Homo sapiens: one gene and its partners. The protein of the gene in region 1 purifies or fractionates together with the protein of each later gene. This does not show direct contact. Each region holds a gene or a part of one and is shown in the gene's direction. Other genes may lie near its edges. The genes, in order: CKAP2, CAPN13, POLR3E, MAP9, LRRC45, OAS2 and TRPM8.

Region 1 (3,751 bases):
ACCAGTTCTTCTCAAGGTATAATAAGAAATAAGACTCTATCAAGATCCATAGCATCTGAAGTTATAGCCAGGCCTGCTTCATTGTCTAATGATAAACTGATGGAAAAGTCAGAGCCCGTTGACCAGCGAAGACATACTGCAGGAAAAGCAATTGTTGATAGTAGATCAGCTCAGCCCAAAGAAACCTCGGAAGAGAGAAAGTAAGTAGATATAATTTTCTTTATTACATTAGTTTTCAATAAAGTACTGTTTGTAGATTTGGATTATAATTTCCTTGACTGCATTAGAATTTTCTTTCATGGTTTCTCTTCTGTCATATGCAGGCAAATTTATATTGTGGAACAATATGACCTAAAAGTTTTTGTGTTTGAGTATGTTTTATAAGGTTGCTTTTTAAAATCTAAGGTAAATGCTTAATAATAATTGGGAAATACTTTATAATCTCAAATCAAAAAATGCATTCATGGAATCATTGAGCATAATTGACGTTGATATGTTTAATATTTCTTCAAGCTTGTGAACTATATATGCCATTAAAGTAAGATTACTTAAAAATATGATTTTTTCTTTTAACTTTATTTGACAGAGTTCTGTCAGCAATTTCAAAGTAACGTTTATATCTGCTTCTAACTATAGAGCTCGTCTGAGTGAGTGGAAAGCTGGCAAAGGAAGAGTGCTAAAAAGGCCCCCTAATTCAGTAGTTACTCAGCATGAGCCTGCAGGACAAAATGAAAAACCAGTTGGGTCTTTTTGGACTACCATGGCAGAAGAAGATGAACAAAGATTATTTACTGAAAAAGTAAACAACACATTTTCTGAATGCCTGAACTTGATTAATGAGGTAGAGTCTTTATATTTGCTTAGCATTTTATAGTTTGCAAATTACCTTCATAAGCATTATTTCATTAAATTATATTGTCAGTCTTTTTGACCAGGTGATGTTGGTGATACTATGTTGACTTAACATTAACTGTGAGGTTATTTTAACAATTATTTAATTGCGAGATACACTGCTTCATTCATTAATTGTGAGCTTATTAGCCTTTAACTGACTACATTTTGCATTGAGTTCATATAAATATACAGGTTGAGTATCCCTTATCCAAAATGCTTGGGACCAGAAGTAATTGAAGATGTTTTTTGTTGGATTTTGGAATATTTGCATATACATAATGAGTTATCTTGGGGATGAGATCCACAAAGTTCATTTACGTTTTGTTTGTTTGTTTGCTTTTGAGACAGTCACTCTCACCCAAGCTGGAGTGCAGTGGTGTGATCTCAGCTCACTGTAACCTCTGCCTCCTGGGTTGAAGCCCTTCTCCTGCCTCAGCCTCCAGAGTAGCTGGGATTACAAGTGTGCACCACACGCCTGGCTAATTTTTTGTATTTTTAGTAGAGACAGGGTTTCACCATGTTGGTCAGGCTGGTCTCAAACTCCTGACCTCATGTGATCCACCCACCTCGGCCTCCCAAAGTGCTGGGATTACAGGTGTGAGCCACTGCGCTCGGCCTCATTCATGTTTTATATACAGCTTATACACGTAGCCTAAAGATAGAATACTTTTTATAGTTTTGTGCATGAAGCAAAGTTTGTATACATTGAACCATTAGAAAGCAAAGGTGTCACTTTGTCAGCCACCCATGGGACAGTCTGGTTGTTTGGCAACACCATCATTCCTCACTCTGAATTTCCATGCTACCAATAAGCAATTATTCTCTTACATTTATTCACACATAATTAATTAACAGTTTAAAAAAAGACACATTAATACAGTGAAAAATATGTTCAGAGTAATTAAGCAGCACAGTAGCATCATCAGAACGCCTGTATCAGCTGTTAGACAATAGCAACAACAAACAGCAGCACGTTTTCAATCTCCATCTATGATGTTGTGTTTAATTAAGAGGTATTTTACACCGTGTTTTATTTTTTTAGGTGAGAAGAAACACCAGAAGCAGTTGAGGGACCAGGAAGTGGGTTCTCTAGGGATAAGGAGGCATTCTGCTGGGTGGCTTTTTAAGATATTTACTTCAGAGTCATCTGCCTCATTAGCAATGGTTTTTGTCTTAGAAGTTTCTCTTTGATTTTATAAAGGGACATGATTTCTTTTTCTGTTCTGGATAAATGCTGCTCTAGTTCTTCAGTAAGCCTGTTGCATACTTTCACCTTGTCGCCTGTAGGTACATTTTCTGCAGTGTTAATGATGGTCATCTGCATTGTGATGTTGATACTCAAAAGTTTTGGATTTCAGATTTTGGATTTTCAGATTAGGGATACTCAACCTGTATCAAAGGGATAATTGGGTTTTTTTACTGAATTACAAATATTTGATTTCTCTGAGCTAATTAATATGTAATACACTGAGGTGATATTTACTTACTGCTTCTAATATTTTGTTTCTTACATCTATTCATTATATTTACACATTATTTTTTACGTTCATTACACATTTTACCAAAGACTAGCAACACAAATACTGTGTGAGTCATTATTATCACAGATTAAGTTACCTAAAATACTCAAAAAAAAAATCCCATTCATCTGGTCAGGTGGGGTGGCTCACGCCTGTAATCCCAGCACTTTGGGAGGCCAAGGCGGGCGGATCACCCAAGGTCAGGAGTTTGAGACCAGCCTGGCCAACATGGTAAAACTCTGTCTCTACTAAAAATACAAAAATTAGCTGGGCATGGAGGCGGGTGCCTGTAATCTCAGCTACTCAGAAGGCTGAGGCTGGAGAATCGCTTGAACCTGGGAGGCAGAGGTTGCAGTGAGCCGAGATTGTGCCGTTGCACTCCAGCCTGGGCAACAAGAGCAAAACTCCGTCTCAAAAAAAAAAAAAAAAAAAAACAATCCCATTCATCTAAGCCAACATCATCATGTTTTTGAATTTATTGCAGAATTTTGCTATTTGGACCAAAATCCTATGGAGTATAATAATCAGCTCCAGAACAATATTCTGTTTAATAATAGATAATATCTTTGTTTCCTGACTGCTCTTTAATCTTGTTTTGGTCACCCACTAGTGTGTAAGATCCACAGCAAAACTGAATTCAAGGTATGATTTCAAACTTTACTCTTCATGAGCATCTTTTAACTTCTTGTGGTTCTGAACACCAGTAAAAGTTACAATCAGGAAAACTCTTGAGTCTCTAATAGAATAGAATTAGAGTTTATTTCTGCTCAGTTTAAGTTTTTCCTTTTGATACTATGAACTTTTTCTGCCCTATTATTTAATTATATGTAACTGTGACATAAACCATTACAGATTCATTTTAATCTTAATATCAAAACCTGATAAAGACGAGGAAAAAAAACTCCGCAGACTATTCTTACTCATAAACATTTGGTAGAAGGTATTAACAAATGGAATCCCACAATATATATGAGGATAAAATCAAGATCAAATAAGTGTTCATTTTTTACTAATAAATTTCTCAACTAATGTTTCATTTTTTTGCTTTATGCTTAGGGCTATCGTTATCATTGATCTTGACTATAGTAGGCTCAATTATTGTTCCCACTTTGTAAGCTAAAAAATATTACACACATTTTTTCTTGCTTTTTTAGGGATGTCCAAAAGAAGATATACTGGTCACACTGAATGACCTGATTAAAAATATTCCAGATGCCAAAAAGCTTGTTAAGTATTGGATATGTCTTGCACTTATTGAACCAATCACAAGTCCTATTGAAAATATTATTGCAATCTATGAGAAAGCCATTCTGGCAGGGGCTCAGGTAAGATAAAAA
Region 2 (4,221 bases), on another chromosome or scaffold:
ACCATTTTTTTCTGAAACTATGGCTTTCCAACATTTTTCATTGCATGCTCTATTAGTAAAATCATTTTGAACATGCACCACAGATATCTGCGTATTTATTCACTGATGATGTTTATGCAATAGTGTGTGTGTGTGTATTGTTTACTGTATTTATAGTGAAATTTCTAATAGAAGGTGTCCGCTGGGATGCAGGAATCCCACTAAACAAACACAAGGCAGACAGGGTAAGCATCATAATCCTCAGCTCACGGATTAATAGACTAAGATGGGAAGGGACTTGCCCAGGTCACACAGCCAAAAGTTGCAAAACTGGGGTTAAAACTCATATCCATACTTTCCAGCTTCTCAGATTCTTCATTCATGTGCCAAATATCCCTTTCTACTCATCAGAATTTGGGAATGGACCAGTCATAACAGTTTTTGGTGATTTCCACATTGTTTCCCTGTTTTACCTATTTTATCATTATTGCCTATAGCATAGGGTGTGCCATGCGATCAGGGTTCTGGAACTGGCTTCTAAAGAGCACTTATGAATGGGGATGAAGAACATCAAGGAATTAAAGATGCCAGAAAAGCAAATAGCCCCTTGGATTTGAGAACAGGAAACATGCACTTTACACGCCTCATCTCTTTCTGCCCCATCCAGCAAGCAGGGATGATGCAGAGACCTTCCCTGGGTCTCGCCATGCCCAGGAGTTAATGTGTTCTACAATGTATTTGTAGAAAGAAGATACTGCGTCTAGTAGAAAGAGATGTGATATGATTGACGTGGAGTGGCCACTCTTGATGCAGGAGACATGGCAATTGTACTTTCCTGTATGAGAATGAGGCCTGAAGGAAGGTTGCTTCCCTCAGTCTTTTCTCAGCAGAGGGGTTTTGTAAAACAAACCAAAACAAAACACAAATTCCCTGAAGCAGAATAAAGATAAAGAAACTTAAATATCTGGAAACAATGAAAACTGCAAGAGCCAAGAAACGGGCAGCTTAGGGGCCCCAGGAAGTGAGGTGGGATAAGGCAGAGATAGGCTTGGGGCGGAGAATCTGGAAGCTGTTGCTGTTTACATTCAATGTCCTCTCTCTCTCCAAGAGGTGGCAGGCCACTGCCCAATGCTGAAGTCACTGTTTAACGAAGGTGGAGCCTGCCTTTACCTGGTACACCCATATAAGGAAAAGCCTGAGGTCAGGAGTAAGCAGACACCAGCACTGCTCTTTCTCCAAGACGGCCGGCCATGCTCTCCTCCTCTGCCAGTCTCCTCCACCACTCTCTAACCTGAGAGCCTGTGGAACCTGCCCGTCTCCCCTCCTCCATCAGACACACCTGCCTAGGAAACAGGTAAGTTGTGCGTGGTCATGTCCCAGAGCTGTGGACCAAGGCAGTCCTCTAAACATTAGTGAGCATGTACAATTTTCTAGAGAGCTTCATGATGTCGCTTCTGAGTTCCCACCTCCCAAGGTACATATTCAGTAGCTCTGGAAGCTGGGTTTTTTTGATGCAGGTGGTCCAAGGATATGCTTTAAGAAAAACTAGGGCAAAGTGGGAGTTAATTTTCTAAGAGAATCTAATCCAAACTTTGCATATTTCATGCAAAGAGAGTATTTCTTAATCATTCTGTCACCTTCGATTTCTGATCATTCTAAGTTGTGACCTTGAGGGCTGTGTTCACCGTAAGGGACACATTGATGGCAGAAATCATGTCTTCTTTGTGCACTGATGTGTAGTTTCTGTTAGATAGTAGGTGCTTAATAAACATTTGCTAAAGGGAAGAATGGGACCTGGGCCCTTTGTTTTCTAATCATCTAGCTTATTAGTTATAGGAATGAAGTTGACAACTCTGGGTTAATCACAAAAGACAGATCATTACAACTTCAGAGATTCAGGAGGTTCCTATATGCCTCTAGTGGTGTCATGGTCACACACATGTGTCTCTGTAACTGCTAAAGTTATGTAATCTTTGAGATGTGATGCTGTTCTCAGGGAGACAGTTCCAGCTGCTCAGCTTGGACCCAAGTTAACCAGATTAGAATAAGTGCAGATATTTTCCCTCTATAGTTACAGTTGGGTCATGAACTACTGACTGTCCCATTTGTCCTGGGTCACAAACACAACTTTGGTTACCCCCGAGTGGCATTAACTAGACTTTCAATCAGATTATCCTCTTGAATTGTCTCACCTTTGTACCCACCTTGACATAAGTATTGTGGGTTTTTGTTGTTGTTGTTGTTGTTGTTGTTATTTTGAAGGTTGGAGGAGTGACAGCTGTAGGGAGGCTTACTTATTAGTAGATTGGTTGATGGAAATGTAATAATCTACCAACTGTGTAATAGGCAAAAGCTATATATAGCATGAGTTCATTATCCCATTTTGTAGATGGAAAAAGTGAGGGACCGGTGAGTGACTTGCTGCAAAAGTTTATACCAGATGCAAATGACAGAGCTGGAGTTCTGCTGTGCCTGGTAGGTACCCTGTCTTGTCCCCTAGTTATTTGGTTGTATTCAGTTACCCTCTTGAAAGAACACCTTAGAAGAAAAGATGCTATGAAGAAATGCACACATTAAGCCAAGCACTGTGGCTCACACCTGTAATCTCAACACTTTGGGAGGCCGAGGTGGACAGATTGCTTGATCCCAGGAGTTCAAGACCAGCCTGGGCAACATGGTGAAACCCTGTCTCTACAAAAATAAATTAAAAATTGGGGGTCTGGGAAAAAATATTAGCTACATGTGGTGGTGCACACCTGTAGTCCCAGCTATTGGAGGCAGGGGGAGGGGTCCATGGTTGAGGTGAAAGGATTGCTTGAGCCCAGGAGGTTGAGGCTTCAGTGAGCTATGATCATGCCACTGCACTCCAGCCTGAGTGACAGAGCAAGACCCTGTCTCAAAAAAAAAAGACCAACCTACTGGCCCTGAGGCTCACTCCGTATCAAGCATTGTGCTTGATGCTTCCATATGGTGAGCTGTGTGATTTGGGGCATGCTCCTTAACCTCTTGGGGGTCCCAGTTTCCTCATCACTAAGACATGGTAGCAACAGTAATCTACCCCAAAAGATCAGTGAAAGGATCAAATGAGATCCTATATGGAAAGCACTTAGCAGTACTTGAGCACATGGCAAGTGCTGAAGATATTTTAGTCATTATTGTTGACATTATTTTAGCCTGGGTTCTCTATAAAACAAAGCCTGAGGCAAAGCTTAAGTGCTACTTAGCACTTAAGGTAAGACACCAGGGGAGTGAGAGTCAGGGAAGTGGGAAATGGGAAGAGAAAAAGGGGAAGCAGTGAGGGATGATGTGCCACCACCTGGCCTCTCTTCACAAAGAGACATGACCAGCCACTTGGCCAAAGCAGGGCCCCTCTGGACTGGCGTTGCAGATGCATTGTGCCTTGGAAGAGTCTATCCGAGCAAGGGTAGAGAGGACATTTATATGTTGGCTCACTCTGTCTCCTCTCTTATTGTTCAAAGCTTGCCCTATGGGGAGTTAACTGTCCTGCACTTCCAGCTTGTGTCTTCTGACCCCTGTGGCAGCCACTGGGAAAACTAGATCTAATTGCTAGAGGCTTGGCACCTCATCTGAGTCCAGAAGTGGTCAGAAGAGCCACTTCCTTGGCTGGAGTAAAAAAGGGACCAAGAGTCCTAGAGACAGGTTGAGGCTAAGAGAACCTGAGATGGCACCTAAGAAAGGTTTAATAAAGACTGAATTATCATTAATATCTGCTGAACACTGCGTACAGCACTAATGTTCCTGCCTAGATGTCACCTCTTTCTCCCATGAGAAAACCATAAAGGGGACTTTGGATAGGCTGGTCCATTCCATCTCTCCTCAAGGTTTGGAAGAAGTCAGGTTGAGGGCATCCTAACTCTCTCAGAACGTCCATGGTGGAGCATGCCACTGATAGACAGCAAGGAAGTCCACGGCCATGCAAAAGATGGGAGCAGAATCAAGAGGAGGTGTTGATTTTCTACCACCCTTGGGACTCTATCTTTTGGTCAAGTGTTTCCTAAAGCATGGTATACATAGAACACTAATTTTGGGGGCTGTTGCTGGGGGCTCCTTGATATAAAGCATTTATGATCAAATATTTGGATGAATGTTGCCTCCTACTCTTCCCTCCTCAGAGAGTTATGATTCCAATTTACTTAAAAAGGCTCTGTTCACGCCTGTAATCCCAGCACTTTGGGAGGCCGAGGTGGGCGGATTGCCTGAGGTCAGGAGTTCGAGGCCAGT
Region 3 (3,751 bases), on another chromosome or scaffold:
AGGTGGGGGTCCGCAGGCCCCACGCTCCTCACCCACACTGATAGGCATTGCTGGCTGATCCCACCATCCTTTCAGCACAGGACACACAGCCAGTACCTGCTCATCAGGGTGGCCGTGCTCTGAGGGCTCAGGGAAGAGGGATGTGATGGAGAGAGGGAGCACTCAGGAGCAAGAGCTGGGGCCTGGGGACCAGAGGGGTGTTGGCAGAAGACTGATGGGGTCTGGGTGGTCCTGGGGCTGTGCACTCTGCCAGAAGAGGGACTCAGTAGGGCTGGCTGAGCTCCAAGCCTGCGCTGTCAGTAACCAGCGTGTCCTGGGGCCTAAGGGGTGGTTGTTTCTCTTGTGAAGCAGATGGTAGGGGACGTGGTTTAAAGTTAATGGGGTTACTCTTCTTTTCAGACTGGAAAAAGTCTATAATCTTGTAAAGGAAACCATGCCAAAGAAGCCGGATGCACAATCAGGTGTGTGAGGGGCTTTGGGCTGGGAGGCCCCGGCTCCTACACTGTGGCTCCGGAAGGGCTGCTGTGCTAGAGCTTGTCAGGCCCGGACCTGGAGAGGGTGGAGGGCTCTCACCGTTCACCCTTCACCCTCCTTCCTTTCCTGCCACCCACAGACCGCAGCTGGTCGCTTGCCCAGCAGCAGAGCCTCAGGGACGGAGGCTTGCGGATTCCAGGGCTGAGTCTGGGTTCCAGGTCTCTGAGGCTCACTCACCCTCTTGGGTCAACAAGCGGGCCCGGAAGAGCTGCTGGGGGGAGGAACTCAGCAGCACCCTTCCCCGCATGACTCTCGGCACGCTGGGACGGTTCTCTCTTCCACTGATGGGGTGGCTGATTTTCGAGAAAGGTTGGGGATGAGACCAGGACGGGACCACTTGCTGCAGCCCCGCGGTCCCCTGCTGGGCTTTTGGCTTCAGATCCCTGTGCCCTCCTGAGCAGTGCTGCCTCCCTCCCCGCAGGGCCTGCCGGGCTGGTCTGTGGGGACCAGCGGATCCAAGTAGCCAAAACCAAGGCCCAGCAGAACCACGCGTTGCTGGAGCGGGAGCTGCAGCGGCGGAAGGAGCAGCTGCGGGTGCCTGCGGTCCCGCCCGGTGTGCGGATCAAGGAGGAGCCCGTGAGCGAGGAGGGCGAGGAGGACGAGGAGCAGGAGGCGGAGGAGGAGCCCATGGACACTTCCCCCAGCGGCCTCCACAGCAAGCTGGCCAACGGGCTGCCTCTCGGGCGGGCTGCGGGCACAGACAGCTTCAACGGGCACCCGCCCCAGGGCTGCGCCAGCACCCCTGTGGCTCGGGAACTGAAGGCCTTCGTGGAGGCCACCTTTCAGAGACAGTTTGTGCTCACGCTGAGCGAACTCAAGCGCCTCTTCAATCTGCACTTGGCCAGCCTGCCCCCCGGCCACACACTCTTCAGCGGCATCTCGGACCGCATGCTACAGGACACGGTGCTGGCCGCCGGTTGCAAGCAGATACTGGTGCCTGTAAGTAGAGCCCTGCCTGCCAGGGGCATGGGGGGTGGGGGGTGGGGAGAACCAGCTGTTGGGAGGCCACGTGGGGACACGGGAGGCCATGCTTGGTGAGCATCTGCTCTCACGTGGGCCTAGGTGTGACATGGGCAAGTCAGCCTCTCTGAGGCTCTATTCTCATGAAATGGGATCATGTTGGGTTTTATGTCACAGGACTGTGGTAGGGGCTAAATACGGTGTCTGAAGGCCCGGCCTATTGCCTGGCCTGCAGCAGGGCCTAGTGAAACAGGGCCCCTGCCTGGTTTCTCACCCTGTCCCCCACCAAGAACACCTGTTTCCTACTAGCTTTGCCATTGTTTGGAATGATTTAACTTCTAAGATCGTTTGATCTTCTTTGCAATCTGCAGATGAAGAAACTGAGGCTCCAAGGAATGAAATGTACGTTTAAAGGTCACTACCTAGGAGGTAGTAGAGCTGGAATTTGGACCTCAGTATAGTGGCCTGGAGTTTTGAATCCTTTCTGCTCAGCTAAGATGAGCTGCTTCCCCACAGCTGCGCCACGCCCCAGCTTGGGCCTGGGTCCTGGCGGCCTCCCTGTGCATCAGAAGCAAGCTGACCAGCTCAGCGCTGTGCTCTCAGCACTTCCAGTGCCAGGCCTTGAGTGTGGTATTGCAAGCCTCCTGCCCCTTCCCCCTGGGCTGCTTTTCTGTCACTGGGAGGGGCCCTGACGGGGGAGCAGAGTGCTTGCTGGGGACCGTTTCCCTGCGCTGAGGATAGAGAGCGCCAGGTGCTGCCTGAGGCACGCCTTTCCCGTGCTCCTTTTCCACAAGGCTCTGCCCAGACCTGGCAGCAAAATGGGGTGAGGTGGGGCTGTGGTGGTCTCTAAGAAAGCATTGATGTTTTCATTGCCAAGGTCAGGAGCGGGCCTGCAGCCTTGGGTGATGATCTGAGGCCAAGGCCCATCCCTGTGTATGAGGAATAGAAACTAGGACAGGAGGCCTTGTGGAGCCTAGGCTGTCTCAGGGGATCGGCCCTGCTGGCAGGCAGCCCCCTGTGGGAGGTACTGGCAGAGTTCGGAGCTCCTGCCCACCCAGCACATGGGTCTGGGTCTCCACAAGCTCACCTTTCTTCATGAGCTGGGCCAGGACAGGCAGGACACCTGCCTGACATTAGTTGTTTTGGGCCGCTGGAGTGGACAGAGGTGAGGGGTGGGACATGGCCACCCTCAGACACCCTCACCCCTCCTTCCGGACCCCCTCTGTCCATGTTGCTTTGGGGTGGGGCCAGCGTCTCCAGGAGACACCATGGCCCTAACTGTAATGCTCTCCTTGCCATCCTGACAAGGAGACTGTATTGTAGTCACATCCAAGACGTAAGAGACCTCCGATCCCAGCCACCTCTGTGTTGTACATGAGGGAGCTGAGGTCCAGGGCAAGTGAATAGATCGAGAACTTGACTTGAACTCCTGGTTCTGCTGCTTATTAGCTGTGTGACCATGGACAGTGAGCAAACCTCTCTGAGCTTACTTTTCCCCATGTACTACCTCCCCAGTTTCTAATGCTCAAATGCAAATGTGTATTGGAGGCCTCACAGGGCTTTTACTGGTAGTAACCATTATTGCTACTTGTGTGATGGAACCAGGACTGGAAACTACCATCCCAGATGCCCCCTCCCCTGTCCCCTTCTCTCCAGGACCCAGGCCTGTGTCACACTTGTCCTGGTCTACCTTTGGACCAAGTGGCCTGGATTGCTTGGGAGTCAGGCAGTGCCTCTAACCCACACTGACATGGTACATGTGGGAAGCAGTTGAAAAGAACCCCCAGGGTACCCCAAGAGTTATGGGGAAGGGGGCGCCCCTCCATCAGGGTTGGCATCTTCAGGAGGGAGGACTCTGGGTGTTAAAGCACAGTTGAGTTGGTGCCAGGCTGATGGGAAACAGACGCAGCTTCCCCACTGTACGGAGGATATCTGCAGACTCGAAGCCGGGCATTTCACTGGGCCCATCACACTCCCCCTCTCGCTGAAGCCCTGTCAGGCCCTGGGGGGTGTGCTGGCCTCCTCCCCATGGTGAGGTGAGAGGCACAGGTTTGTGGCTGCCCAAGGCCCTCAGAGATGGTGAGTAGCAGAAGCTGGGATTGGAACCCATGTTCCTGCATCTGGGCTGGGGCAGACAGGGAGGGATGAGGCAAGCAAATGGATCCATGGGGTAGAGATGGACAAGCAACTCACCCCTGGGCCTTGGTCAGTTTCCCCCCCAGACTGCTGCTTCCCCGGATGAGCAGAAGGTGTTTGC
Region 4 (3,751 bases), on another chromosome or scaffold:
GTATTAAGAAGGTAGATCTCATGTTTGTTCTTACCACAATAATAAAAAAAATTGACTCAACACCTTCTTTCAGGCATTATATAATATTCTGCTTAAACTGAGGCTCAAAAGACATGCAAGCATTTGTCAGGAGGAGAAGCAGGAAGTGGATATTCTAGGCAGGGGGATCAGCTTAGGTAAAGGTATGGTAGCAGGAGGGATTGGAGGGATTGTGGTATGTGTGCATGACAACTGTTAGCCCAGCATTTCAGAAACACAGATGACAAAATGGCTGTAGATAAGGCAGTGAAGGACAAAACCATAAAATCCGTTTTATGTTGTTTAAAGGCAGTTAAGCTTTTATTCTGTAGGATTGGATCATGGGGAGCCATTGAATAATTTTGTAGAAAGGAGTGATGTGATCTGATTTGGATTTTGTAAATATCATGGAAGCAGTGATCTAGGAAAGAGTGGATAAGGACCCGACAGCAGGGATGTAGAAAGTGGAATAAATGAGATATTTGGCAATTAGAATTGATAGGATATATTGATACTCTGGATTTAGGGGATAATAGAGGGAGGAATCTAGAGCCCTTGGATTTGGGGTTGAACATTTGGCTGGAGTTTAGGATGTAGCTAAAATTGTCAGCTACTTATAATAATACCAATTTGGTATGGTTGTGGAATCTTCTGGCAGAATCCATAAGCCCATTTTTAGGTAAATGGGAGGAAGATGTTAATTAGACCAATTTTGAAGTTGAGAAAAATGCATTTGTAGAACAATAGAAACATAAATATGTATAGCAGGTAAAATGCAGGCAAAAAATATATACATGGAAAGTCTTCCCATTGTTTCGAATACTGGATGCAAATCAGCATTTGATTCTTGATTTAAACTTAGAAGTAATGGAAAGAGTGAAATTTTAATAAATGCTAAAGAAGTTTTATGGACTCAGAACAATTAACTCATAAAAGATTCCTTCCTCTAATGAGAGTTAGCACTCCTATCCCTTGAGTGCCAACATCATCATCTTTGTCCTTATAATAGCACTTATAATCTTAGTAATCTAGTCTTGTAATTTTGTTTAGAAAAATCAACCTGTAAAGTACCTGGACAGGTCCATTGCCGCTTTGTTGATTATGAGGTTTAGTAACGTGTACAGGGCTTGGTACTCAAAGGCTTGATGGATGAGCCTCCTCATTTTATAGTGGTAGAAACTGGGGCAAGATTTTGTTTTGTTTTTTTATTTTTAACATTTTTTTTTTAATATTATAAGAGTTCACAATGTTGAAGAGTTAACTTCTTGTGACTGGTTACTTTCAGGATGACAACTGTTTCTTTACTTTGTTTTTTTTTTGTTGTTGTTGTTGTTTGGTTTTTTTTTTTTTTTTAGATGGATTTTTGCTCTTATTACCCAGGCTGGAGTGCAGTGGTGTGATCTCGATCTCGGCTCACTGCAACCTCAGACTCCTGGGTTCAAGCAATCCTCCTGCCTCAGTCTCCTGAGTAGCTGGGATTACAGGCACGCGCTACTAAGCCCGGCTAATTTTTTTGTATTTTTAGTAGAGACAGGGTTTCACCGTGTTAGCCAGGCTGGTCTCGAACTCCTGACCTCATGATCTGCCCACCTCGGCCTCCCAACGTGCTGGGATTACAGGCGTGAGTCACCGCTCCCAACATGTCGGGATCACAGGCGTGAGCCACCGCGTCCGGCCTGATTATTAACCATCATTTATTTGTGCCTTACTAGAGCTCTGTATAGAGAAGAGTTGTGGGCTTCATCTGGACTCTTCAGGACAGAGAACAAAGGGGCATAGGCACAGGAGGGAAGTATGGTAGCACCCAGAGAGATAGATAAAGCCATGGTCATTTTTTTATACACACACTTTAAGCATTTTATTTTTCAGCAGAAAACAACAGCCTTGACACAGATGATCACTTTAAACCATCACCTCGGCCAAGGAGTATGTTGAAAAAGAAAAGTCACATGGAGGAGAAGGATGGACTAGAAGATAAAGAAACTGCCCTCAGTGAAGAATTGGAGTTACATTCTGCACCTTCTTCCCTTCCAACGCCGAATGGCATACAATTAGAAGCTGAGAAAAAAGCATTCTCTGAAAACCTTGATCCTGAGGTTAGCACTACCACTAAACTGTTGAATTGTGTTCTTGAATTTATGCTTTTTTATCTGATTATGAAAAAGAGAAGGAGAGAATGAATTTGTGTGCGTGTGTGTGTGTTTTACATACTTTCTTCTGCAACTGATAAGGAAATAATTTTTAAAAATACACTGTATTCCACCGAGTCTAAAACTGCATCAATTGTAAGACGTAGCATTATTTTACATACCACTAAGGAAGAAGGAAATGCATCCAATTAAACTATAACACACCAGTGATTGTAGAGTTTATCCAGTTTTAGAGAAAGTAAAATGTCAAAAAGTGTTGCTTTTCTGAATCTATATAATAGTGTTTATCTTTAATAATTTTTTAAATTTATGTATCTTTGAATTATGTAATTTATGGCTAAGAACAATATAGTCAGTGTCATTTTATTTATTTGATTTTATTCACTCAACAAATGTGTGTTGAATGTTCATGGCACTCTTCTGTGTTCTTTGGGTTATGTTCCAATAGCATTAAATGTGGCCTTTCAGGTTTCCATCAGGGAATTTACTATGCATTGTTATTAAGGGAGAACACTTCGTTTTTCTCTTTGTATTTCACTATGAGAAGCAAACTGTCCCTTCTGAACATTTCAGAAGGGAAAAGTACAGGAAGAACATTTCTTCCCCATAATCTGCTTGGGCAGATTAGGGAACTGCATGCCACCTGGCCAAGCTTCTTTCTTTTTCTCATCGCTTGTCTGCAGTGTTGGTGCTTAAGGATCTGCTCTCTGGGAGGTGAGGCAGAAGGTGCTGAGAGGAGCTCTTTTGTGCAATGACTAAATGGGGGAATCCCCCTAATTCAGACTGGAAGTATTAGGAAGCACAATAGGCTACCAATTCAAATCTTGTTCTGCAGTTGAGCTTTACCAGTAAAGCTGACAATTTGATATACGCCTAACTGACACCACCATGCTGTTTCTTAATTTGTTCTGAAAACCAGAAGAAGAAACCCAAGCAAATACTTTATATTTAAGAAAATTATCTGATCCATTGAATATTGTGCTAGTTTCTTGTAGCTGCTGTAACAAATTGCCACAAACTGGTTAACTTAAAACAACAGAAATGTATTCTCTTAGTTCTGGAGGTCAGAAGTCCAAGATCAAGGTGTTTGCAGGGCCATTTTCCTCTGAAGGCATCACGGAAGAATCCTTCCTTGCCTCTTCCAGCTTCTTTCTAGTGGTTGCCAGCAGTCCATGGCATTCCTTGGCTTGTAGCTGGCTTGTAGCTGCATCATTCCCTTCTCTGCCTTCATCCCATGTGGCCTTCTTCCCTGTGTTTTCTCTGCATGTCTGTGTCTCTTCTTTCTCTTAAAAAAAGACACCAGGCATTGGATTTAGGGCCCACCCTAATTGAGTGTGTCCTCATCTTATCTATTTAAAGCTGTAAACACCTTATTTCCTAAGAAAGTCGTATTTTGAGGTTCTGGATGAACATGAATTTTGGGGCATTAATGTTCGTATGTTAAACCTAGCATTCCCGGGATAAACTCTGGTTAGTCATGGTGTGATATTTTATTGTGGGATGTGATTTGTTAAAATTGTGTTAAGGTTTGCATCTATATTTATGAAGTCTATTGGTCTGTAATTTTTTTCTTATAATGTTAC
Region 5 (4,193 bases), on another chromosome or scaffold:
CCACTTCCAGGAACAGGGAAGAGCAGGGCACGCCCTCCAGCCTGGGCGGATCCTGGCTCAGACGGCCTAGGTCTGACCCTAGCCCTGCTGAGTCACTTAACGCCCCCGTGCCTCAGTTTCTCCACTGGCAGGTGGGGTTAATCCCTGTCAAGTGTGTGTAACGTGGAGCACCGAAGAAACCACGCGTTCCTAGCCCAGTGCTGGCGCCCACCGGGGAGCAAACAAAAGGGAAACCACTGTGCCTGGCGGCTGGGGTAGGTCCTGCCGGCTCCTCGGGCTGGACGATCTCACTGTCCCCGTCCTGGGGCCTCATCTCCCCTTAACAAAAGACCCCAGGCTCAGGGCGCAGGGCGGCGGCCCAGCTCCTCCTCTCTCTTCGCCGGCTTGGACTCCGCCGTGACGGCGCCCACCCCTGCCTGTTTCTGCAGACCCTCTCCACCTTCCCGCAGCCCCGGCTGCTCCACGCCCCCTCCTACCAGCTGCGAGACACCAGCCCACGAGGGCGCGGGGCGCGCGGCCCGGCCGGAGATGGAGTCTGAGAACGGGCCCAACCTCAAAGGCACAGGGGGCGGCGCGGGGGCTGGCGTCTGGCCCTCACAGTGTCACGCGTGAGGTCGGGACGGAGCGTCCGCGCCTGCCTAGCCCCTGCCCTCCGGCCCTCACCTTCCGGAAGCCGGATCCAGCTCCTGCTCCCTCCATGACCGCAGCCTCAACGCGCGCCCACCGGAACCCCGCCCCGCGCCTCCAGCCAATGAGACCGGAGCGCGCCCCCGGAGCCCCGCCCCGCGCCCCTAGCCAATGAGTCCGAAGCGCCTGCTCTCGGAGCCCCGCCCCCACGTCTCAGCCAATGAGCCCGGAGCGCGCCCTCCAGCAGCCCCTCCCTCACGTCCCGCAGCCAATGAACTTGGAACGCGCCCTCCCGGGGCACCACCCTCACGACCCTCAGCCAATGAGCCCGGAGCATGCCCTCCCGGGGCCCCACCCTCATGCCCCTAGCCAATGAACCTGGAGCGCGCTGCCCCCTCTCAGCTTGCGGCCCGAAAGGCGCGCCAGTTCCTTTGTTCTCATTGGCCCGCACCAAGCGCTGCCTGCGCAGAGCCTGCTAGGAGTTGTAGTTCCCGCGGCCTCTCCCGGCGCGCCTTGTTCTTCCTGGATACTGAGGCCCCGACGCGGCTGTCGCGAGGGCGGGGGTCGGGGCTGCAGGCGGGGCAGGGCTGGGTGGGGGCGCGCGACGCACCTGCCTGCTTCCTGCACGGGTGGTCCCCAAGCACTGCGGGGCCCCAGCCCAAAGCGGACCTTGACTACCGCCCAGCCCCGCGCTCCCAGGACCTCCCGCCCGCGGAGCCCACTCGGATTGCTCTCCGCCCGGGTCGGCGGAGGCCCCGTCTCCTGTACCCGGCGCTGGGACTGCTCCGCACCGCGCGGCTCCCTTTCAGCAGCTGCGGGAGCATGCGGAGGAGGCCCTGCCGGCCCCGCGGGTCATGGAGGAGTTCCGGCGCTCCTACAGCCGCCTGTGCAGGGAGAGTGGGGCCGAGCCCCAGGAGGCTGTCCTGCAGCAGCTGCACCAGCTTCCCAGGGGCCGGCTGGACCTGGCCACGCAAAGCCTGACGGTGGAGACCTGCAGGGCCCTGGGCAAGCTGCTGCCGAGGGAGACGCTGTGCACGGAGCTGGTCCTGAGTGACTGCATGCTCAGCGAGGAAGGTGGGCAGGCGCGGCGGGGTGGATCCCTCTGCTCCTTAGCTGCCCACACCATTGCCTCGGCAGCCCGAGGTCGCTTCCTCTCCAGGCTCTCCAATTTCTGTGCCGTAGTTAAAGCGAGCAGGGGCGCCCCTTCCTGCACCTGGGAGTAGAGGGCAGTTCCTCTGTATGACGGGGGAGAGGCCTTAACATTCGCGGTCTTACCTGGTTCCCCGCGTGCAGAGCCGGCTTGGTGCCTGGCAGGGGCTGCAGGTGTTTCAAACATGACTTCGCAGCGAGACTCTTGGCCAGCGCCAACCCAGACCATCGGGACAGTTGTCCCTTCCTGGGTCTAGGGAGCTGCCCTGAAAAGGGGCCCACGGGGAGGGCCTTGGGGTCAGCAGGGGCAGAGAGTGACCGCCGGCCCCCCTTACACAGGGGCCACACTGCTGCTCCGAGGCCTGTGTGCCAACACCGTGCTGCGCTTTCTGGACTTAAAGGTGAGATACCTGCACTCTTGAGTGTCCGAGTGTGCCACCCAAGGGCAAGAGGAGAGGTGGAAGATGCCAGGTCTCGGGGGCCTGGGGTCTGGGCAGGTGGCTGGAAGCTGTCTGTGAGTCCCCAGGCCGCTCTCTGATGGCCTCCTGTGTGTGACCATCTCCAGAGCAAGAGTTCACATTGGCAAACAAGCCGGCCCTTGGAAGCCCCCTGAAGACAGGGAGCCCAGGAGCTGAGGAAGGCTGCAGGGTGCACCCCAGGCTTGTCCCCTGGCTGACCAAGGCCCTTGGGGCATGGGCGGGAATTCAGAGCCAGTCAGGGCACGCGAGTGACTACCGGCCTGTTTCTCTCCTAGGGCAACAACCTTCGGGCTGCAGGGGCCGAGGCTCTGGGAAAACTCCTCCAACAGAACAAGTCCATTCAGAGGTGGGTGGTGGTCCCGACCCCAGGCCCTGTCTCTGTGTGGTTGAGGATTGGCCCCGAGCACATGCTTCTGCAGCCCAAGAGTTCCCCATTGCCAGGTGCCCATGTTTCACATACGTTGGCAGGGGTAGGCAGAGGCTCCGGCCCATCAGACCCCAAGCCCACACCCGTCCCCAAGCCCTGGACCCCACGGGCTAGGCAGTCCCCTAGGTGAACACTGGCTTCTGCCCCTCCTGCAGCCTCACGCTGGAGTGGAACAGCCTGGGCACGTGGGACGATGCCTTCGCCACCTTCTGCGGGGGCCTGGCGGCCAACGGCGCCCTGCAGCGGCTGGACCTCCGCAACAACCAGATCAGTCACAAGGGCGCGGAGGAGCTGGCCCTAGCCCTGAAGGGCAACACCACCCTCCAGCAGCTGGGTGAGGCCTCCCAGGCGCCCTCAGGCTCCCTCATCCCTCTGAGGCTGCCTCTGCTCTGGGAAGTGAGGGGCTAGGGGACTGGCCTGTGCTCCTGCTCTGTTGATGACTGCAAGGCAGTGCCCCCTAGGGAAGCACCCCGGCCAGGCCAGCTCCCCCTCTGCCAGGTGCATTCTGTCTGGTGACTACAGGTTTCCTTCCAGACCTGCGCTGGAATAACGTTGGCCTCCTGGGGGGCCGGGCCCTCATGAACTGTCTCCCCAGCAACAGAACCCTGTGGAGACTGGACCTGGCTGGGAACAACATCCCTGGAGACGTCCTCAGAGCCGTGGGTACGGTGCAGGGCTGTGTGGAGTGACGCGTGAGCCTTTGACAGAGGCCTGTCCACCGAGGGCGGGGTGCCGGGCTCAGGACGGGAACTGATGAGGAGAGCAGCCTGAGAGCCCAGGGGAAGCAGGAAGGAGCGGAGGGGTCGTGGGGCACCTGTTTGGCACTTGAATGGCGTTCGCCACACATGGGCACTGTCCGAGGCGCCCTGTGTACTTGCTGAGTTCTTAGGACCTGTGCAGTGGAGGGTGCCCGTTTCACAGCTGGGGAAGCTGAGGCCGTGTGGCTCACAGTCCTGGCCTTGGTGGCTTTGCTGATGCTTCGGGTGGCCCAGGTCTTGGCCTTGGCCAGGAAGGCTCCCTGGTCACCCTGAGTCTGTGGCCCTGCATGTGAGTCAGGTGAGGTGGGGCCCCCTGGCTTGTGCTGGCCTCCACACATTCCCTCCCACCAGCGACCCCGAATCCTTGCAGCTGATGTCTCAGCCTCAGGCCCCAGTGCCCCAGACTCAGCTGGGGACTTTGCCAGGCCCCCCGTACTCCCTAATCCGCGCACAGCGGCAGCCTCTTCCAGCCCCTGTGCTGAGGGCTCATCCCTCCTGCTGGTTCTGCCTGGCCTCTGACTCCAGCTGCGCCGTCCCTGGCTTCGCCTCGGCACTGCCCTGGTTGTTGTCATCCCTCCTGACCTCTGCCCCCTCGCCACATGCTACCCAGATCTTTCCAGAACTGAGCTGGGCACAGCATTTGCCTCAGCATTGTGCAGTGCCCCTTGACCTTTGGGATGGTGGCCAGATGCCCCAGGATGGCCCTTGCCTTTTGCGGTGGAGCAGCTCCCACCACCTCTGCCCCACATGTGC
Region 6 (4,273 bases), on another chromosome or scaffold:
AGGAAAGGCCCTTAATGAGCATGTGCATTAATCGAGGTTTTTCCAGAACTAACAGGGTATTTATATTTATTTTGAGGTATTTATTTTAAGGAATTGGCTCATGTGATTGTGGAGGCTGGCAAATCCAAAATCGGCAGGGTAGACTGGCAGGTGGGAGACCCAGGAAGGAGTTGCTGCTGCAAGTGGAGGCCAAGGCACTGCAGCCGAATTCCCTCTTCCTTGGGGGAGCTCAGTCTTTAGTCTATTAAGGCCTTCAACTGATTGAATCAGGCCCACCACCTTACAGATGATAATCCACTTTACTCAAAAAAAAAGTCTACCAATGTAAATGTTAATCTTATCTTTAAAAAATACCTTCACAAAAAGATCTAGGATAATGTTTGACCAAATATCTGGGTACCTGGGCTCAGCCAACTTGACACATAAAATTAACCATCCCAGTATGGAAGGGCCCTGGTCCCCCACTACATCTTGGAGATTTTTGCCTTCTCTGTGAATTATTATTGCTGGGCCAAGGCAGCTGGCTGGGAGTCCTCTGCGAGTTTTGTTTTCAAAGCTCTGGGCACAGGAGTTGCATGTCTGTCTCCTTTCTGGCTCACACACTTGGGGTGTGTTTTCTTGCCCTTGCGAGGCTGGACAAGTGCCTCATACGGTCCCTCGGCTGTCCACAAGTGTGCTGAGAAACTGGACACACAGAGGTTCCCACCCGCTGACCACACGGGGGCCTGTGTTTACCCAGAAGCAGACCAAAACCTGAGTCCAGCTAGGTCCCTGCTTTGCTGTGTGTCCCTGAGCAAGTCAGTTCCCTCTCTGGGTCTCTTTTTCCTCTCTGCCGCTTTCCCTGAATGTGAGTTCCCTGGCCACTGAGAACAGGGGGAAAGGGACAGAGCCTCAAAAGATGACCTGTGCGCCCCTGCTTCTAAGCACTTTGCAGGTATTATTTAATCATCAAGCTAATCCTACGAGAGAGCTGCCATTTTCCCCCAGCTTACAGATGGGGGAATTGAGGCGCGAAGAGGGCAGGCGATGTGCTCAAGGACAGACATCTAGCAGGTATGAAGCCCTCACAATGGGGTTCTAGAGGCTGTTTAGTTAACCTCAAGTTTTGGGGAGCCCCTGAAGGGCTGGTCACCACGCTGCCGGGGACAGGGAAAGCCTCTGAGCTTGAGTCAGTTTTGGTTTCCCTGCTGGGGTGCAGGAGTCAGTAAACCTTGCTGCAAGGGGCGGGGAAGAGCATTTGAGCTTAAGTTAGTTTTGGTTTCCCTGCCCCGGATGCAGGAGTTGGTAAACTCACTGCAAGGGGCAGGGCAGAGCCTCTGAGCTTAAGTTAGTTTTGTTTCCCTGTCCCGGATACAAGAGTTGGTAAGCTCGCTGCAGTGGGTGGAGAGAGGCCTCTAGACTTCAGTTTCAGTTTCCTGGCTCTGGGCAGCAGCAAGAATTCCTCTGCCTCCCATCCTACCATTCACTGTCTTGCCGGCAGCCAGCTGAGAGCAATGGGAAATGGGGAGTCCCAGCTGTCCTCGGTGCCTGCTCAGAAGCTGGGTTGGTTTATCCAGGAATACCTGAAGCCCTACGAAGAATGTCAGACACTGATCGACGAGATGGTGAACACCATCTGTGACGTCCTGCAGGAACCCGAACAGTTCCCCCTGGTGCAGGGAGTGGCCATAGTGAGTCCAGGGCTGAGGTTGGGTCTCTGGGAGGCAGGAGATTCCACGGCGGCAGCAAGGCCGAGCTACTGGGTGCTGGGTGCCTATTATGTGCGAGGCCCACACTTGGGTGGGATGTGGTGTAGGAGTCTCAGGCTCTGGAGCAGGCGCTTGCTCCAGAGCTGTGTGACACTGGGCAGGCTACTTAACCTCTCTGTGCCTCAGTCTCTGACTCTGTAAAATGGGGAGAGGCATAATACCCACTTCAGAGTATCGTAAGGCTTGAGCACATCATGTTCTTAGCAAAAGACTGGCAGTGCTCAGTGAATTCACTGTGATTACTCACTGCGATTTTCTTCTATCCTCTCCACAGTACAGAGGAGTAAACTTAGGGAGGCTAGAGAACTTTGTTCAAACTACCCAGGTTGCCTTGTGGTTTCTCCGCAGCAAGAAGGAGTGGCTTTTATCAGTTAGAAATATTTGGTTTTGTGGACACAAATCTCAGGACTGAGGCTGAAAATTCTGGACCTCTGGGGAGGAAGGGGGACTGGGGAGATGCCAGGACCCTAGAATTGGGGGCGTGGGGGTCCTGATGGCCCAATACTATCCTCTTAGCCTCCTGAGCTGCTGACGTCCCTTCTCTGCTGCTGCCACACTTTTTGGTCTCTACCCCTTGCACACATCCGCTAGTGCCTCAATAAAGAAATCTAGACACGTGGTGTCCCCAGCCCTGGCCCAGGCCAGCAAGCTAAGGCAAGTTTGGTTAATAGCTATTGTCAGAACTGGGATTTTAAGCCTGGGTAATTGGCTTGAGGGCATGCATGTTTAACCACTACACTATCCTGCCTCTCAATTTTTTTTTCCTCATGGAAGTAAAACAGAAAAAGTGCCCAGATCAAAGTGTCCAGCTTGATAGGTAGCCACAAACAATGTAACTGTGTAACCCCCACCCAGATCCAGAAACAAAACATTCTCAGCCCCCCAGAGCCCTGGGCCCCCGATCCAGTCAGCACCTCCAAACCCAGGTAGGCAATCTCCTGACTTCTAACAGCATAGACACGTTTTGCCTGTTTTTAAACGTTTTACAATTATAGGGTGACCAACTATCCCAGTTCATCCAAGATTGGGGTGTTTCCTGGGATGTGGGACTCTTGGTGTGAAAGCTGGGAATGTAAACCAGGATGCATGGGTGAACCCTACATAAATGGCATCATGGGCTCTGTGTGCTTTAGTGCGTGGTTTCTCTGACCTATGATGTTTATGAAATTTATGTTGTGGGGTACAGTTGTTTATCTTTTCATTGTTGTGTCAATTCCATTATGTGAATATTCCACATTTGTCCATTCTACTGTGTTTTTTTATTTTTACATAATTGTGCATATTTATATGGGGTACATGTGATATTTGGACACATGGATACAATGTGAAATGATCAGGGTAGTTAGGATATCCATCACCTCAAACATTGATCATTTATTTGTGTTGAGAACAGTTCAGATCTTCTCTTCTAACTATTTTGAAATATATAATAAATTATTGTTAACTATAGTCACCCCATTGTGCTATCAAACACTAGAATTTATCCCTTCTATCTAACTGTATGTTTGTATCCATTAACCAACTTCTCTTCATTTCCTCCTCTACTTCCCAGCCTCTGGTAACTATGATCCTACTCTCTACCTCCATGAGATCAACTTTTTTTAACTTCCACATAAACACATGCAATATTGTCTTTCTATGCCTGACTTATTTCATTTAACATAATGACCTCTAGTTCCATGCACATTGCTGCAAATGACAGAATTCCATTCTTTTTGTGTCTGAATAGTATTCTATTGTGTATATATACTACATTGTCTTTATCCATTCAGCTGCTGATGGATACGTTGGTTGATTCCATATCTTGGCTTTTGTGAATAGTGCTGCAATAAACATGAGGGTGCAGTTATCCCTTTTTTGGATAAATACCTAGTAGTGGGATTGCTGGATTGAATGGCAGTGCCATTTTTATTTTTTTTAGAAACCTCCATACTGTTTTCCGTAATGACTGTGCTAATTTACATTCCCACCAACAGTGTGTAAGATTCCCTTTACTCCAAATCCTTGCTAGCGTTTATTTTTTGTCTTTTTGATAATAGCTATTCTAACTGGGGTGAGATGGTATCTCATTGTGGTTTTGATTTGCATTTCCCTAGTGATTAGTGATGTCAAGCATTTTTTCATATACCCATTGGCCATTTTGTATGTCTTCTTTTGAGAAATGTCTATTTAGGCCCTTTGGCTGCTTTTTAATGGGATGGGTTGTTTTCTTTGCTGTTGAGTTGTTCACGTTCCTTGTATATTCTGGATATTAAACCCTTGTTGGAAAAATAGTTTCCAAATATTTTCTCCCATTCTACAGCTTGTCTTTTCACTCTTGATTGTTCCCTTTGATGTGCAGAAGCTTTTTCATTTAATATAGTCCCAATTGTCTATTTTTTGTTTTTGTTGCCTGTGCTTTTGAAGTCTTAGCCACAAAATACTTGCATAGACCAATATCATGAAGCATTACTCTTCTGCTTTATTCTATTAATTTTATCATTTCAGGCCTTATGTTTAACTCTTTAACCCATTTTTAGTTAATT
Region 7 (3,751 bases), on another chromosome or scaffold:
ATTTGAAATTTTTGAGAGTAAAGACCATGAATAGAAATAATTGAGATTATTGATTAAAAACATGAAAGCAAAGATTGACATAGTTAAACAAGTAAATCCTAGAACTGGACAAATCCTTAGCTATCTCTCTGTGAAGGTCCCTTCCTTTGGGCCTGCCATGGAGATAATTCCATTGAATTTTACTTTCATGGCATAGCTTCAACTTGCATTCAGGACATTCTAAGAAATAGCCAGGCTAAGTTTAGTGCTGTAAGTCTTGCATGGCTGTGCAGGGATATTTACCACTATGTGGCCCAGTGTGCTTTTGGCATAGGCATTTTTCTTTTAACTTATTATTTTGAGATAATTATAGCTTCACAGGAAGTGGAAGAGGAAAAAGCATAGAGAGGGTCTGTGTACTCTTCACCCAGTTCCCCTCAATGGTGACACCTCATGTAACTATCATACAAGATTAATACCAGAGAATTGGCATTGGCACAATGCAAAGGCTTTATCAGATTTCACCATTTTTTTTTTTTTTTTTTGAGATGGAGTTTAGTTCTTGTTGCCCAGGCTGGAGTGCAATGGTGTGATCTTGGCTCACCGCAACCTCCGCCTCCTGGATTCAAGTGATTCTCCTGCCTCAACCTCCTGAGCAGCTGGGATTACAGGTGCCCTTCACCATGCCTGGCTAATTTTTTGGTATTTTTTTAATAGAGATGGGGTTTCACCATGTTGGCCAGGCTGGTCTCGAACTCCTGACCTCAGGCGATCCACCCGCCTTGGCCTCCCAAAGTGCTCGGATTACAGGCATGAACTACCACGCCCGGCCCCAGATTTCACCACTTGGACATGCATTCATTCATGTGTGTATAGTTTAATGCAATTTTATCACGTCAGTAGATTCGTATAACTACTGCCACAACCGAATTTTGGAACTGTTCCATCACTAGAAAAGCCCCTTCACTCTGCCCCTTTACAATCACCCCATCCTCCTCATCCTACCTGTCCCCAAATGTAGGAGTTCTTTTCACCCTGGCCTCTGTATCAGGGAATGTGGGTTTGAAGTTAGTTTATGGATGCCTTGAAGCTTGTAATTGACTATGTTCATCCTGTCAACCTAAAATAATCAAAAGGCTCAGGATCCAATTAAAAGAGTTTATTCAAGTGCAAAGATGAGGGCCGCCATCCAGACAGCAGAATGACAGCAAAGGATGGTGATCACTGCACCTGGGATGGGGAAAAGGGAGAATCATTTATACAGGCAAAGCCAGAGGTGCCGAACAGAAACACATTTTCTTTTTTCTTTTCTTTTTTTTCTTTTTCTTTTTTCTTTTTCTTTTCTTTTCTTTTTTTTTTTTTTTTTGAGATGGAGTCTTACTCTGTCACCCAGGCTGGAGTGCAGGGGCGTGATCTCGGATCACTGCAACCTCCCAGGTTCAAGGGATTCTGGTGACTCAGCCTCCCAAGTACCTGGGATTACAGGTGCCCGCCACCACACCCAGCTAATATTTTTGTATTTTTAGTAGAGATGGGATTTCGCCATGTTGGCCAGGCTGGTCTCAAACTCCTGACCTCAAGTGATCCCCCTGCCTTGGCCTCCCAAAGTGCTGGGATTACAGGCGTGAGCCACCATGCCCGGCCAGAAACACATTTTCTGTATGAAGGCTACTGTACAAATGTAAGATTTGATTGACTACTACTGTTTATACTCTAAGGGGGTTGCTTAACAGTCTATTGTAAAGAGGTTACAGTCGCAAGGGTCTCTGTCTCCAACATCAATTAAGTCTAGGTTAGAATGAAGGATAGGGAGTCCGGTTAAGGTAGAACATCTCCATCTGGTTTTGCACAACCCTTGCAAAAGTCAGTCAGCAAGGGTTGTGCAAAAATAGCTGTGCTATGTGACTCTGTTTTCAGAGCTTCACTTTTCCCCTTGGCATAATCAACCTGGAAGGTCCTAAAATTTTATTTTCTTTTTACAATCCCTTTGCTTTGGCCATTGGTAAGTTTAGGGCATGATTTCTAGTGCCCCCTGAGGACCTTGGAACAGGCTTCCCCTGTGGCTGGATAAGCTCCTCACTTAACCAGTCTCTTTCTCTTATTTTATCCTCAGCTCATTTATTTCTCTTTGGTTCCTTTGCTTTACATAATATTTTAGTAAGTTTCTTCAACTCTTTCTGCATTGAGATAAAATATAAACATTTAAACTGAAAAAAAACCTCTACCACGTCATCTCTACTTATTATTTATATCTGACATTTTCCCTCCAGCCTCCCTGTCTCCCTTTCCAGAGCTGCCTAAAGTTATGTGAGTGTTTGCCTTCCTTGTTCCCCATTCCTGAGTGTGTCTTTCTACTGCCCTCACAGCTGAATTGACTCAGGATACAATTCCTAGATCACAATCTTTTCCCTCTTAAAAAAATGTAAACACTGTTCCATTTTCTTCTAGTTTATAGTGTTGAAGAAGAGAAGTTTTATACCAGCCTGGTTTTTCTCCTTTAGTAATTTTTTTCTGCTATATTGCTTGTATGTTTTTATGTTTATTCTTTTTTCTTTTTTGAAACAGAGTCTCGCTCTGTCACCCAGGCTGCAGTGCAGTGGCACGATCTCGGCTCACTTCAAGCTCCGCCTCCCAGGTTCACGCATTCTCCTGCCTCAGCCTCCTGAGTAGCTGGGACTACAGGCACCCGCCACCACGCCTGGCTAATTTTTTTTGTTGTTGTTGTTAGAGATGGGTTTCACTGTGTTAACCAGGATGGTCTCGATCTCCTGGCCTCGTGATCCGCCTGCCTCAGCCTCCCAAAGTGCTGAGATTACAGGTGTGAGCCACCGTGCCCGGCCATTTTTATGTTTATTCTTATACTTAAATGATTTCATCTGGATACCTCTGGCCCTATTAATTTTGCTTGGCAGCAGACCCAGTGAGGTTTTTATTGTGAAGACTCAAATCTTTCTTTATCTTGGGGAAGATTTATTCTGTTGATTTTCTGATGACTGTCTCTTGTAAGTAGAACATTCTTTTCTTTGGAAAGGCCTGTTACTGACATGACAAATCTCCAGTGTTCTCCATGGCTCCTCTAGCAATGGCCACAGCTAGGTGTGGTGCAGCTGTACCAAGGTTTTCCCTCCTTGGTGGGGTGGGCTAAAGTGGAGGGACACAGCCCCATGTCCCCTGCTGCCGTGCTCTGCCTGCCCAATGCTGCCGGCACCAGGTTACCACGCAGGGCTCCATGGGCCGGCATCCACTGCACATCTCGAGCACATCCTCTGGTTTGACATGGGGTCACACGGTGCTGCCAGTCTTTGCCACACTTGATTAGGGTGCCAGCTTCATTAGAAGTAAGGACGACTGTCAATTAAGCATTTCACTCATGGGTCTTGAGACTTCTAGTCTCAGCTTCTGTCGTGCCTGGGGAAGCACCTCACTCTCTCTTCTGCCTGGGGAGGCTGTAACTAGAAAACAATAAAACAACAACAACAACAACAAACTGTCCAGAGCTGGAAAAAAACAAAAACAGCCAAAATTGAGTTTGCATGTAAAGAGGCTTACAATCAATGTGAAAATTTCGGACCAATATCTGGTTAGAATCAGTAAACCATCAGGACTTCAGAATAAGGGGAACATGCTGGGCAGAAAGAAGAGCAGGGAGGCTGCAGTCAGGATTTTCTTTACCAGATCAAAACTCTAATAAAAACAACTACTTTTACAGTGTTGGGGGGAAAGTGTTGAATGCAATAAGAAGACATCCCCATGGATGATAAGCTTCTCACAA

What was found.
Region 2: the proteins of CKAP2 (region 1) and CAPN13 purify together in Homo sapiens (affinity purification with mass spectrometry; one large-scale study listed by BioGRID and IntAct). This does not show direct contact.
Region 3: the proteins of CKAP2 (region 1) and POLR3E purify together in Homo sapiens (affinity purification with mass spectrometry; one large-scale study listed by BioGRID and IntAct). This does not show direct contact.
Region 4: the proteins of CKAP2 (region 1) and MAP9 purify together in Homo sapiens (affinity purification with mass spectrometry; one large-scale study listed by BioGRID and IntAct). This does not show direct contact.
Region 5: the proteins of CKAP2 (region 1) and LRRC45 purify together in Homo sapiens (affinity purification with mass spectrometry; one large-scale study listed by BioGRID and IntAct). This does not show direct contact.
Region 6: the proteins of CKAP2 (region 1) and OAS2 purify together in Homo sapiens (affinity purification with mass spectrometry; one large-scale study listed by BioGRID and IntAct). This does not show direct contact.
Region 7: the proteins of CKAP2 (region 1) and TRPM8 purify together in Homo sapiens (affinity purification with mass spectrometry; one large-scale study listed by BioGRID and IntAct). This does not show direct contact.

What each region holds. Positions count from the first base shown.
Region 1 is NC_000013.11:52,461,727-52,465,477, forward strand, and holds part of CKAP2 (cytoskeleton-associated protein 2), read left to right. Parts: coding exon 1-200; intron 201-636; coding exon 637-841; intron 842-3,568; coding exon 3,569-3,739; coding exon of another isoform or gene 3,740-3,748; exon of another isoform or gene 3,749-3,751. UniProt on the Homo sapiens protein: Possesses microtubule stabilizing properties. Involved in regulating aneuploidy, cell cycling, and cell death in a p53/TP53-dependent manner.
Region 2 is NC_000002.12:30,804,414-30,808,634, reverse strand, and holds the start of CAPN13 (calpain-13), read left to right. Parts: upstream 1-1,188; 5' UTR 1,189-1,333; intron 1,334-2,368; exon of another isoform or gene 2,369-2,454; intron 2,455-4,221.
Region 3 is NC_000016.10:22,324,806-22,328,556, forward strand, and holds part of POLR3E (DNA-directed RNA polymerase III subunit RPC5), read left to right. Parts: intron 1-399; coding exon 400-461; intron 462-955; coding exon 956-1,473; intron 1,474-1,865; coding exon of another isoform or gene 1,866-1,955; exon of another isoform or gene 1,956-3,704; coding exon 3,705-3,751. UniProt on the Homo sapiens protein: DNA-dependent RNA polymerase catalyzes the transcription of DNA into RNA using the four ribonucleoside triphosphates as substrates.
Region 4 is NC_000004.12:155,366,949-155,370,699, reverse strand, and holds part of MAP9 (microtubule-associated protein 9), read left to right. Parts: intron 1-1,887; coding exon 1,888-2,114; intron 2,115-3,751. UniProt on the Homo sapiens protein: Involved in organization of the bipolar mitotic spindle. Required for bipolar spindle assembly, mitosis progression and cytokinesis. May act by stabilizing interphase microtubules.
Region 5 is NC_000017.11:82,022,163-82,026,355, forward strand, and holds the start of LRRC45 (leucine-rich repeat-containing protein 45), read left to right. Parts: upstream 1-1,142; 5' UTR 1,143-1,481; coding exon 1,482-1,701; intron 1,702-2,115; coding exon 2,116-2,177; intron 2,178-2,530; coding exon 2,531-2,601; intron 2,602-2,837; coding exon 2,838-3,016; intron 3,017-3,216; coding exon 3,217-3,345; intron 3,346-4,193. Other genes in the region: CENPX (centromere protein X), read right to left, coding at 664-699. UniProt on the Homo sapiens protein: Component of the proteinaceous fiber-like linker between two centrioles, required for centrosome cohesion.
Region 6 is NC_000012.12:112,977,116-112,981,388, forward strand, and holds the start of OAS2 (2'-5'-oligoadenylate synthase 2), read left to right. Parts: upstream 1-1,403; 5' UTR 1,404-1,493; coding exon 1,494-1,670; intron 1,671-4,273.
Region 7 is NC_000002.12:233,920,350-233,924,100, forward strand, and holds part of TRPM8 (transient receptor potential cation channel subfamily M member 8), read left to right. Parts: intron 1-3,751.